Linked DNA regions of Homo sapiens: region 1 is linked to region 2. A link means that fine-mapping ties the variant in region 2 to the expression of a gene that starts in the linked region. Tissue or cell type: whole blood. Region 2 holds a variant in brackets; the other region holds the start of a gene. All regions are shown on one strand. Distances are from middle to middle. Region 1 holds the start of AKIRIN2 (akirin 2). Region 2 has its middle 39 kb from the start of AKIRIN2.

Region 1 (5,381 bases), 39 kb after region 2:
AGCCTGTAATGCTAGTGGGAGGATCACTTGAGGCCAGGAGTTTGAGACCATCCTCGGCAACTTAGACCTCTGTCTCCACAATTAAACAAAAAAATACTTTCCTCATTTTCTAGGCATTCTGGTATATTTCAAATGATAGCCTGATAACCACAATCCTCTCTGTATTAGTTTCTTACAGTTGCCATAACAAAGTACCACAAACTGGATGGCTTAACCTACAGAAATTTATTGTCTCATGGTCTAGAGAATACAACTCTGAGAAGGTGTTTTCAGGGTTGGTTCCTTCTGAGGACTGAGGGAGAACAACTTCTCTCCTAGCTTCTGGTGTTTTGCTGGCAATCTTTGGCATTCCTTGGCTTGTAGAAGCATCACCCTAATCTCTATTTTCATGTTCATGTTCATGTGGGTCAAAATTCCCTTGGGCCCATGCCTGGGTTCAAATTCCCACCCCCACCCAGTCTCCCCTTCACCCTGGCCTTTTTTTCTTTTCTTTTTTTTTTTTTTTTTTTTGAGACAGGGTCTGGCTATGACACCCTGGCCGGAGTGTGGTGGTGTGATTACAGCTTACTGCAGCCTCAACCTTCTGGGCTCATGCAATCCTCTCACCTCAGCTGCCCCGAGTAGCTGGGACCACAGGTGACCACCACCATGCCTAGTTAATTTTTTAAAAATTTTTGTAGAGATGAGGTTTCTTATCATTGCCCAGGCTAGCCTCAAACTCCTGGCCTCAAGTGATCCTCCCACCTCGGCCTTCCAAAGTGCTGGGATTACAGGTGTGAGCCACCGCACCTGGCCCAAATTTCCTTTTTTGTATAAGAATACCAGTCATATTGGATTAGGGGCCCATCCTACTACATTTAGCTAATTACATTTGAAATAATCCTATTCCTAAGTAAAGTCATATTCTAAGGTACTGGAGGTTAGGACTTCATATGAATTTTGAAGTCCTTGAATTCCCTCAAACATAGGGAATTTAACTCACAACATCACATTTCAAATGTAGGTTTTATAACTTATGGGCAAATCTTAATTTCAGAAAATATTACCAAGTGTTTAGAATTTACTAGAAATTTACCTAGTAGGTGTCTTAGTTAAGCTGCTGTTTCATTAAATGCTTATCTTTTTCAAAAGATTTTCCAAATGTAGGAAATGTAGGATATTTCCAAATATCCTAAATTAAAACTAGAAGGGCTTACTTGTTGACACAGTGTGATCAGGACTGCTGATCTCTGAAGCACTGGACAATTCTATAAAATTGTCTATAAAAAAGAATATATTGAACTACTTCTAAATATGGTTTAAAAATAATAGACAAAATGGCTATAAAACATCTGTTACTGAATAAAGAAGAATACATGAGCACTGGAAATCAGTATTTATAATCATTTGACAGTTGGCATTCACAAAATTGTTTCATATTGCACTGGTGATAGTTTCTACATATATCACTTTTTTTTTTTTTTTTTTTTTTTGAGACGAAGTCTAGCTCTGTCACCCAGGCTGGAGTGCAGTAGCTTGATCTTGGCTCACTGCAACCTCCGCCTCCCGGGTTCAAGCGATTCTTCTGCCTCAGCCTCCTGAGTAGCTGGGACTATAGGTGTGCGCCACCACGCCCGGCTAATTTTTTTTATTTTTAGTAGAGACAGGGTATCACCATGTTGAACAGGCTGGTCTCGAACTCCTGACCTCGTGATCCGCCTGCCTCGGCCTCCCAGTGCTGGGATTACAGGCGTTAGCCACCGCGCCCGGCATCATTTTCTTTTCTTTTCATTTTTTTCAGACAGAGACTCGCTCTATCACCCAGGCTGGAGTGCAGTGGCAACATCTCGGCTCACTGCAACCTTCGCCTCCCGGGTTCAAATGATTCTCCTGTCTTAGCCTCCCGAGTAGCTGCGACTACAGGCGCGCGCCACCACGCTCGGCTAATTTTGTATTTTTAGTAGAGACGGGGTTTCACCATTTTGACCAGGCTGGTCTCGAACTCCTGACCTCAGGAAGATCCGCCTGCCTCGGCCTCCCAAAGTGCTGGGATAACAGGCGTGAGTCACCATGCCCGGCTACACAGATCACTTTCTAAATTAGCGCTGTATTTGATTCTTATTTTAGGTATGTGACTAAAAGTACAACTTCTAGAAACACTTTTTTCCCCTTCCGCTTACAAAATGGATCCATCCAATATCTATTACCTAAACATTTCACTGTCTTTTGATTAGTTTTGTAACAAAGTTCACAATATATGCACCAATATTCAACAGAAGTAATGCAATGTCTGATACCACTTGCTTTTTACCCAACGCAAAACAATTTGATTCTGTAAGTCGTTCAAGTCCTATTCATTTACAGAAGCAAAGCTGGCTTTACAGAATTTCATTAGTGGATGAAGCAGCTACCTCCGAAGGGTAGAGCATCGAGTTGAATCAAGGATCCTGTAACCTGATACTATTACTGTTGTTCTGTCTGCCAGTCCTAAATAGGTTTCATAATCTCATTATCTCCTATCCTCTCCATGTGAAAGGTCTTGTTTTGGGTACTGTCGCTACCGAAATTAAGCTAACTTTGACTAGAGATTGGTTTATTATATTTCCCAGATCTGAAATCACTGTGGGAGCAACTATACGGAGAATCTTAAAAGATTTCTATGTCGCTTAGCCTGCTTTTGCCACGGGTTCGCTTTCCCATCTCCCACTGTCTCAGAACCTTCTCTTTTTTTCTCTTTTGCTTAGTTCCTCTTACACTCAAGCTGTGTAGGGGGATTTAAATTCCAACCCGGAACTCGGAATCGCGCGCCTTGCATGACGGAAGTCGTAGTTTCTGTGACTCCTCCCTTCCCGCCTTTCAAGCCGATTCCTCCCGGTACCTAAAAACTACAACTCCCAAAATGCATCCCCGGTTTGGCCCGCCCCCGTGCGCAAGCGCTCTGAGGCCGCCGGATTTGAATCGGCGGCGTTGTTATTGACGCCATATTGGGGCCGGCGGCGGGTGGGAGAGTTCTACGAGGGAGGGGAAGCGGTTGGACGTGTTCGCTTGGGTTCCTGCTGCGGCAGCTACCTCGCAATCTCTCTGCATCGATCGCCGCTCGCAAGCTACTGACCGTACTCGGGCGTATTAGGAGCCGCGTTCCAGCCTCACACCCCACGGTGCTGTTTTCGACTTCAGAAAGGATCTAGTCTCAGCACAGAAGCGCCTCAGGCGCGGCGCAAAGCTCGAGCGGACGGCGGGGGCGGCCGGAGCCTCTCTCGGGGGAGCCGCGCCTGAGGAGGCGGAAGAACCCCCCTGACGCGACTGGCGTGTGCTTCTGCCCGCCACCGCCCCTCCCGCTCTCACCCGGGCCGTCCCTGGCCACTGCCCCTGCCGCGGAGGCAGCGGCGGCAGCGGCTCTCCTTTCCACAGCCGGCGCTCCGCGACCCGCTTGGCTCCTGAGCCCGTCGGGTAGGCTCTCCTCGAGTTCCCGCTCTTCACCCCTTCCCTCACCCTCTTCTTTCGTCACCCGTCCCCGACCCCACCCGAGCCCGGCGCCTCAGCTGCCCCCGGCCATGGCGTGCGGAGCCACTCTGAAAAGGACTCTGGATTTCGACCCGCTGTTGAGCCCGGCGTCCCCGAAGCGCAGGCGATGTGCGCCATTGTCGGCGCCCACCTCGGCCGCTGCCTCCCCGTTGTCGGCGGCCGCGGCCACCGCCGCCTCCTTCTCCGCTGCGGCCGCCTCGCCGCAGAAGTATCTCCGAATGGAGCCATCCCCCTTCGGCGACGTCTCCTCCCGCCTCACCACAGGTGGGACCCGGCCCCGCGGCCGCCGGGGTAGTGGAGAGAACTGGGAACAGGGGTCCTGGGGTGTGGGATGCGGCCCCTGGGGTGGGGGTGCCGGACTGTGTGGTTCTTGTTCTTAGCAAAGTAGTAGGGCAGCCACGTTTTTCACTAGGTCCTCGTAGCCCGAGGACCTAATAAGACACAATAGAAATGGGCTGATGTCAAGGGGATAGTGTTTGGAGGTGGGTAGGGGCTTTGCCTTGCCCGTATTGGGTAGAACAGGGACATCTTTTTCTTTGGGCCGAATGATTGGAATTGTTTCCGTAGTCGCTGGAGCCCCAGCGGAAATGATCAGAGAGGACGATATTATTCGTAAATTTAGGCGAAAGGGTCACATTTCACCCCAATCTGGATGTGTGCTTGCCGTAATCGATTGGTTGCAGCTATTAACTCTGGGACTGGGTGGTTTGAGGCGAGGCTACAGCCCCTCCTTCAGTTCAGACACGGCTGATTTTAGTATAGTGGGGGTGGGGGGTGGGGGATGGATGTCACTAGGGCGAGATCTAGGCCTGTCATTAATCACCCACAAGAACGCCACTTTGGCTGAGTCAAGACCTGTTTCCCTAGCAGGGTCAACAACAAAGAAAATGCTCTTCCCGAGTACTGTAATATGATCACACTATAAGTCTAGACCTTGAGAAATGTTGAACTTTTAATAAGCATATTGCATTGAAAATTGGGGCTGAGGAGTTGCTTTTATTTGGAAATGTTTTATTTTTGCCCAACAAAGTATGCTGGGGGAAAACAACCTAGCCTTGAGAATAATGAAGAAATCAACCCAAGATTCCAAGGGACTTCAGACTTTTGCTTTTCATCTTGAAACATTTCCTGAGAGAGACTGGGGAATGTCTTTTGGCTGCTTTGTAGGGCATGTGTATGCCCAGTTTTTTCTGTACTTTGAAATCCTTGTGTGCCCCTGGCACAATCCTAGGATAGGCTTTTGTGGACTAGAAGTGTAAATGTTTCCTTTGTGTGTAGCATGCAAAGATTTCTGTGTGAGCCTTTAGTAATAATATCACCCTTTAGACAAAGCCTTTCCATAGCTTGATTTAAATGTCTCGTTATCAGTAGCTTAAAAAACCGAAGTATATACCTCTGTATTTGGTGACTTCCATTTGAAACTGACTTTAGTGTTTTTTTTTTTTTGTCACATTTAAAAATATTTTCTAAATCCATGGAGTGACCCTCGAATATGCAAGCTACCATTTTTGCTATTAAATATTTGGTCTAATTTAAGGACATACTGTTTTAGAGTTGTAGTGAGTTTTTACGGAAATTCTTAGATAAATTTATTTAATGACCTTACTAAACTGTGTTTTAATTAGATTGAAAAGGCATTTGTTGATTAATTGTTAGGCTTTACTTTGGGAAAAAAAAAAGGAAACAGCCAATGTCAAGAATGAGCTACTGGTGGTTGACATTTTTGGAATTTGTCTTTTAGTGAAATGGTATCATTGGAAATTGAAATGGATTCTGTACTTAACTAATAAAGCCATTTCAAAATAAGGTCATTAAGGAGCTAACCAGCAATACATTTCAGTCGAGGGAGTGAATTAATACAGTGCTAGGTTTGGGAA
Region 2 (5,381 bases):
ATAGGATCGTCCATGGCCGGGCACAGTGGCTCATGCCTGTAATCCCAGCACTTTGGGAGGCCGAAGTGGGTGGATCACCTGAGGTCGGAAGTTCAAGACCAGCCTGACTAACATGGAGAAACCCTGTCTCTACTAAAAATACAACTTAGCTGGGTGTGGTGCTGCACGCCTGTGATCCCAGCTACTCGGGAGGCTGAGGCAGAAGAATCGCTTGAACCCGGGAGATGGAGTTTGCAGTGAGCCGAGATCGTGCCATTGCACTGTAGCCTGGGCAACAAGAGCGAAACTCTGTCTTGAAAAAAAAGAAAGAAAGAAAGGAAGGAAGGAAAGAAAGAAAGAGAAAAGAAGAGAAAGAAATAGGATTGTTCAGTAAAATCAGGCATTTTTGTCCTGTCCAGGCAGTTCTGCCTTTACAGGTCAGAGAAAGAAAGGAGAAGAGTTGGTTTACATCCACTTTCTCTTTTTGAGAAGAAAGTCACCCTCTAAACTGCCACATAGGCTATTTTGCTGGGAGCTCTTCCATTGTCTTTTTAAAATTTTAATGTGTAGTAATCTTGACTCTTGAATGAGGGACCATCAGAAAGAACTTCCTAGTCAAGTTGTAAGGGGGCGGAGGTGTAGACCTTGTTCCAGGTTCTGCTCATTTCTTCCCCTGCCCCTCCCAGACCTGTCACAGATTCAGGGCTGGTCAAATCTTGTCCCAAAACCAAAGAAATCTGCCCCAGAAGACTTCTGAGATTGTCACAAGATTTCTAGTTATCAGAACCAAGGCCATCCAGGCCTCCAACTGAATCTAGATAAAAACCATCTGAATTGAGAACATTCTAGAAACAGAGATCAAGGACAGGATGATACTTTGTAACTATGGGAGGGAATATGGCTTCTCATTTTTCAAGAGAAAATAAAAACAAGATTTCTTGACGTTCTTTCCACTGAATGCTAAAGAAAGCTTCATTGTTAGCTGTCTCCTCTCCCAAACAATAAGGAAGCAAACAAAACAGAATAGAACACCCCTGTACTTCAGAGGTCTTTTTTCTCAGTGCTGCATGTTTTATGCATTATGAACTGAGGTTATCTTTTTCTTGTTAGGGTTTACATAGAACCGAGATAGCCATTAGATATTCTGATTATTAAAGAAGTTAGAAATATTTTTTTAACTCTAAAGGGGCTTCTCTTATTTAATTCTTTTAAAAATCTATTACTGTAATGCAGAGCATTGTCTTTGTCATTATAAAGAATTTTTAAAAATGATAACTAATACAGTCTTATTTTTGAAATTGTCTTCTAGTTCAGAAGGGAGAGGGAGAGTAAACCAAGAATATGAAAAAGCAAGAAAAGCATTAAGTGCGAAGGGATCTTTTAAAAACTTGTGTTAGGAGTGGTGGAAGGTAGTATTTCGTAGTGTTCCTAGGATTTCACTAATGAGCAGATTGAGGATACAAATGATTAATAAAACACATTATCTTGGCCTGAAGCATCTTCCAGGCTAGTTGAAAGACAAGCATGTAAATCAATTGATTACAGTTAAAAAGACAAGAGCTTTAAGGAATAGAAATGACATGCTGTGAAAACTGAGAGAAGAGAATGACTAGGTCTGCTCAGGAAAATCAAGAAAGGCTTCACATAGAAGATGACATTTGAGCTGGGTCACCAAATGTGGTAGTTTTAAAATATGTTCACAAATTTTTAGATACTTCTCCTTTCAAGAGGTGGAACTTAACTCCCCTCCCTTTGAGTGTGGACTGGACTTAGTGACACTCAGCCTCCCAAGTAGCTGGGATTACAGGCACCCACCACCATGTTCGGCTAGTTTTTGTATTTTCAGTAGAGACGGGGTTTCACTGTGTTGGCCAGGCTGGTCTCGAACTCCTGACCTCAGATGATCTGCCTGCCTTGGCCTACCAAAGTGCTGGGATTACAGGCATGAGCCACAGCACTTGGTGTCAACTTCTTTGTGCTGTCTACTAGTGACACTAATAGAAAATGGCAGAAGTGACAGTGTACTTCAAAGATGAGGTTATCAGCAGCATTATGGTTTCCTGTTTA[C/T]TCTCTTCCTTGGATCACTCACTGTGAAGGAAGTCAGCTGCCATGTCACGAGGACACTCAAGCAGATCTATGAAGATGACTACATGGCAAGAAAGTAAGGCCTCCTGCCCACAACAGCCACGTGGGTGAGCCATCTTGGAAGTGGCTCCTCCAGTCCCAGTCAGGTCTTTGGATGACTGCAGCCTCAGCCAACATCTTGACTGCAACTGCATGTGAGACCATGAACTAGAACCATACAGCTAAGCCACTCAGAATTCCCAACCCCAGAAACTGTGAGGTAATAAATGTTTATCATTGGTTTAGATCACTACCTTTTGGGATAATTTGTTATACAGCAATAGATTCCTAATACCCCAGATGAGTATCAATTTGCTCTATTGGCAGGTGGGAGGCATCCAAATAGAACTGAAAGGGTCCCAGTGAGTGGTTGAGTATGGCTGGAGTGTAAGACATGTAGTTGTGACTCTTAAGCTTTTAGTGTATTAGCAAATGCCCTAAGTATTCTTAAAAGTGGAATTTCCTTAAATTAATGAATATCGTTGGCCAGGTGCAGTGGCTCATGCCTGTAATTCCAGCACTTTGTGAGGCCAAGGCAGGAGGATCATTTGAGACCAGGAATTCAAAACAGGCCTGGGAAACATAATGACACCCCATCTCTACAAAAGAAAAGAAAAAAAAAAGAATATTGTGGAATATGGCTACTCACTGCACTTTGGGGGAAAAAAATTAAATTTTTTGCCGTGACCTGAAAGCTACTTCTCTAGTTCACCCTGTGTCACAGTCCTCCTTGCTCACTACACCTGAATCACATTGGCTTTCCTTATTCCATCTCCCCCCCAGGAGTTCTGTGCACACAGCTGCTTCTGTTTAGATAGCTCTTCTCTTTACCTTCCCTCTGGCTGACTCCTGCTTCTCTTATAAGACACAGCCTGCATGTGCCTTCAAGGAGATCCCTTTTCTGACCATCACAACTGTTGTTCTTCTCCGTAGTGCTTGTTTGTTTCTTCCATCAGAGGAATTACTCTCCAAACTCATGTTATTTGTGTTATTTGTCTGTTTGCATGTTTTTGTCTGTCTTTCACTCCAGACAGTACATTCCACTATGCAGGGGCCACTTGTTGATTGCAGTATCTCCAACACGTGGCATGGTGCCTAGCGTGTGGTAAGTGCTCATAAAATACTGATTGTAGCTATCTTCCCCTTCCTCTTGTGTAGTAAAACCTTTATATTAGGTATTCCAGTTTCTTTTTTGTTTTGTTTTATGAGATGGCGTGAGCCATCACGCCCGGCCAGATATTCCCGTTTTAAGACTATTTGTCGGCCAAGTATTCCCATTTTAAGACTATTTGTCGGCCGGGTGCAGTGGCTCACGCTTGTAATCCCAACATTTTGGGAGGCTGAGGTGGGCGGATCACCTGAGGTCAGGAGTTCGAGACCAGCCTGGCCAACATGGCAAAACCCCATCTCTACTAAAAATATAAAAATTAGCCAGGAGTGGTGGGAGGTGCCTGTAATCCCAGCTACTTGGGAGGCTGAGACAGGAGAATCGCTTGAACCCGGGAGGCAGAGTTGCAGTGAGCCAAGATCATGCCACTGCATTCCAGCCTGGGCGCAGAGTGAGACCCTGTCTCAAAAAAAAAAATGTAGATTAAACATCTTGGCAGCAATACTTCAGATACAAGGCTGTACAGATACAAGGCTGATACAAATACAGACACAAGGCTGTACTTCATACATACATATATATATGTATGTAACTCACATGTATCATATGTATATATGTATTTATGTATATCAAGAGGTACATAATTTAGTGTCTCTCTTTTGGTGATGCCAAAATTGGTCACTGGGTTTAGGTGGTAACTCCCAGATTTCACCCTGTAAAGTTGTGTTTTTCCCCTTCAGAGTGACTGCCAAGCCATCTAAGGAGTGATCTTTTGCCATCACAAATTGGAGACATAGTAATATCCCACCCATAAATACTTTAGCATATGTCATTAAAATGTAAAAACATTTTCCTTCATAGCTAAAATAATATTATCTCACTGAACAAAATTAATACTAACCCCTTAATATCACCTAACATTCAGTCCATGTTCAAATTTTCTCCCAATTCCCAAAATGTCTTTTATATCTGATTTTCCAAACTGGGATCTAAACCAGAGAAGCCAATTTTTAAATGATCATAGGAAAAACCTTAAAATATATATTACCTTAGATACAGACTTTTCCTTTTAATTTCATATTTTATCCACTAGTTAAAAAGAAATGTTGGCCGGGTACAGTGGCTCACGCCTGTAATACCAGCGCTTTGGGAGGCCGAGGTGGGCGGATCATGAGGTCAGGAGATCGAGACCATCCTGGCTAACACAGTGAAACTCCATCTCTAGTAAAAATACAAAAATTAGCTGGGTGTAGTGGAGTGCGCTTGTAATCCCAGCTACTCAGAAGGCTGGGGCAGGAGAATCGCTTGAACCTGGGAGGCGGAGATTGCAGTGAGCTGAGATCGCGCCATTGCATTCCAGCCTGGCGACAGAGCAAGACTGTCTCAAAAAAAAAAAAAAAAAAAGAAAAAAGAAAAAAGGAAAAAAAGAAATGTTATTGCTGTCATTGCAGTAGGTGAATGTCATATGCATGTAGTTAGGAAATTTACAAATCCTGTTCTAAAATTTTTAACTGAACCGGGTGTGGTTCAGTTTATAGGCTCACGTCTGTAATCCCAGCACTTTGGGAGGCTGAGGTGGGCTGATCACTTGAGTCCAGGAGTTCGAGACCAGCCTGGCCAACATGGTGAAAACTCGTCTCTACTAAAAATACAAAAATTATCTGGGCATGGTGGCACACACCTATAATCCCAGCTACTCGGGAGGCTGAGGCACAAGAATCACTTGAACTCTGAAGGTGGAGGTTGGAGTGAGCTGAGATCACACCGCTGCACTCCAGCCTGAGCCACAGAGCCAGATTCTGTCTCAAAACAATGAAAATAAAAAAAATAAAAAAATAGAATCCTCATCTGGCAGTTCTGGTTCCAAAAAAGTAAAATAAAATTTATCACTAATAACATTATATCCTCATGATTTTTAAGTTCTTACTAACGATAAAGAAATATTAAAATCACTATAAGATTGAAATATGTTCATTCATAAGTTGAATCCAAGTAGTAAATCTTGCCCAGTGGCTAAGAATCAGAAACAGAATCAGCGCCTTGGGTGTAAGCACTATCTCAGCAGAAGAAAGAGGGAAACTAGTAGCTAGGTTCACACTAACATCAAGGATGAGAGAAATGATACATTTCGACTTCTCAGTGAAGAGGACTGGGAGCTAAAGGCTTACAG

What was found. PIP is the estimated chance that this variant, and not a neighbour inherited with it, causes the effect.
Region 1: AKIRIN2 starts here. The variant in region 2 is fine-mapped to the expression of AKIRIN2 in whole blood (TOPMed, PIP above 0.99).

Annotation. Positions count from the first base shown.
Region 1 is chr6:87,699,837-87,705,217 of GRCh38, reverse strand. AKIRIN2 (akirin 2) reads left to right here and starts at 2,985. Exons shown (of 5, transcript NM_018064.4): 1 at 2,985-3,768. The coding sequence starts at 3,534. RefSeq lists enhancers at 2,414-2,723, 3,034-3,093 and silencers at 3,254-3,423, 3,604-3,813.
Region 2 is chr6:87,739,003-87,744,383 of GRCh38, reverse strand. No RefSeq gene overlaps it. Among named protein-coding and RNA genes, the nearest start is that of AKIRIN2, 39 kb to the right of the region's middle. RefSeq lists an enhancer at 1,976-2,125. The variant C/T (reference allele first, on the strand shown) is at 2,047.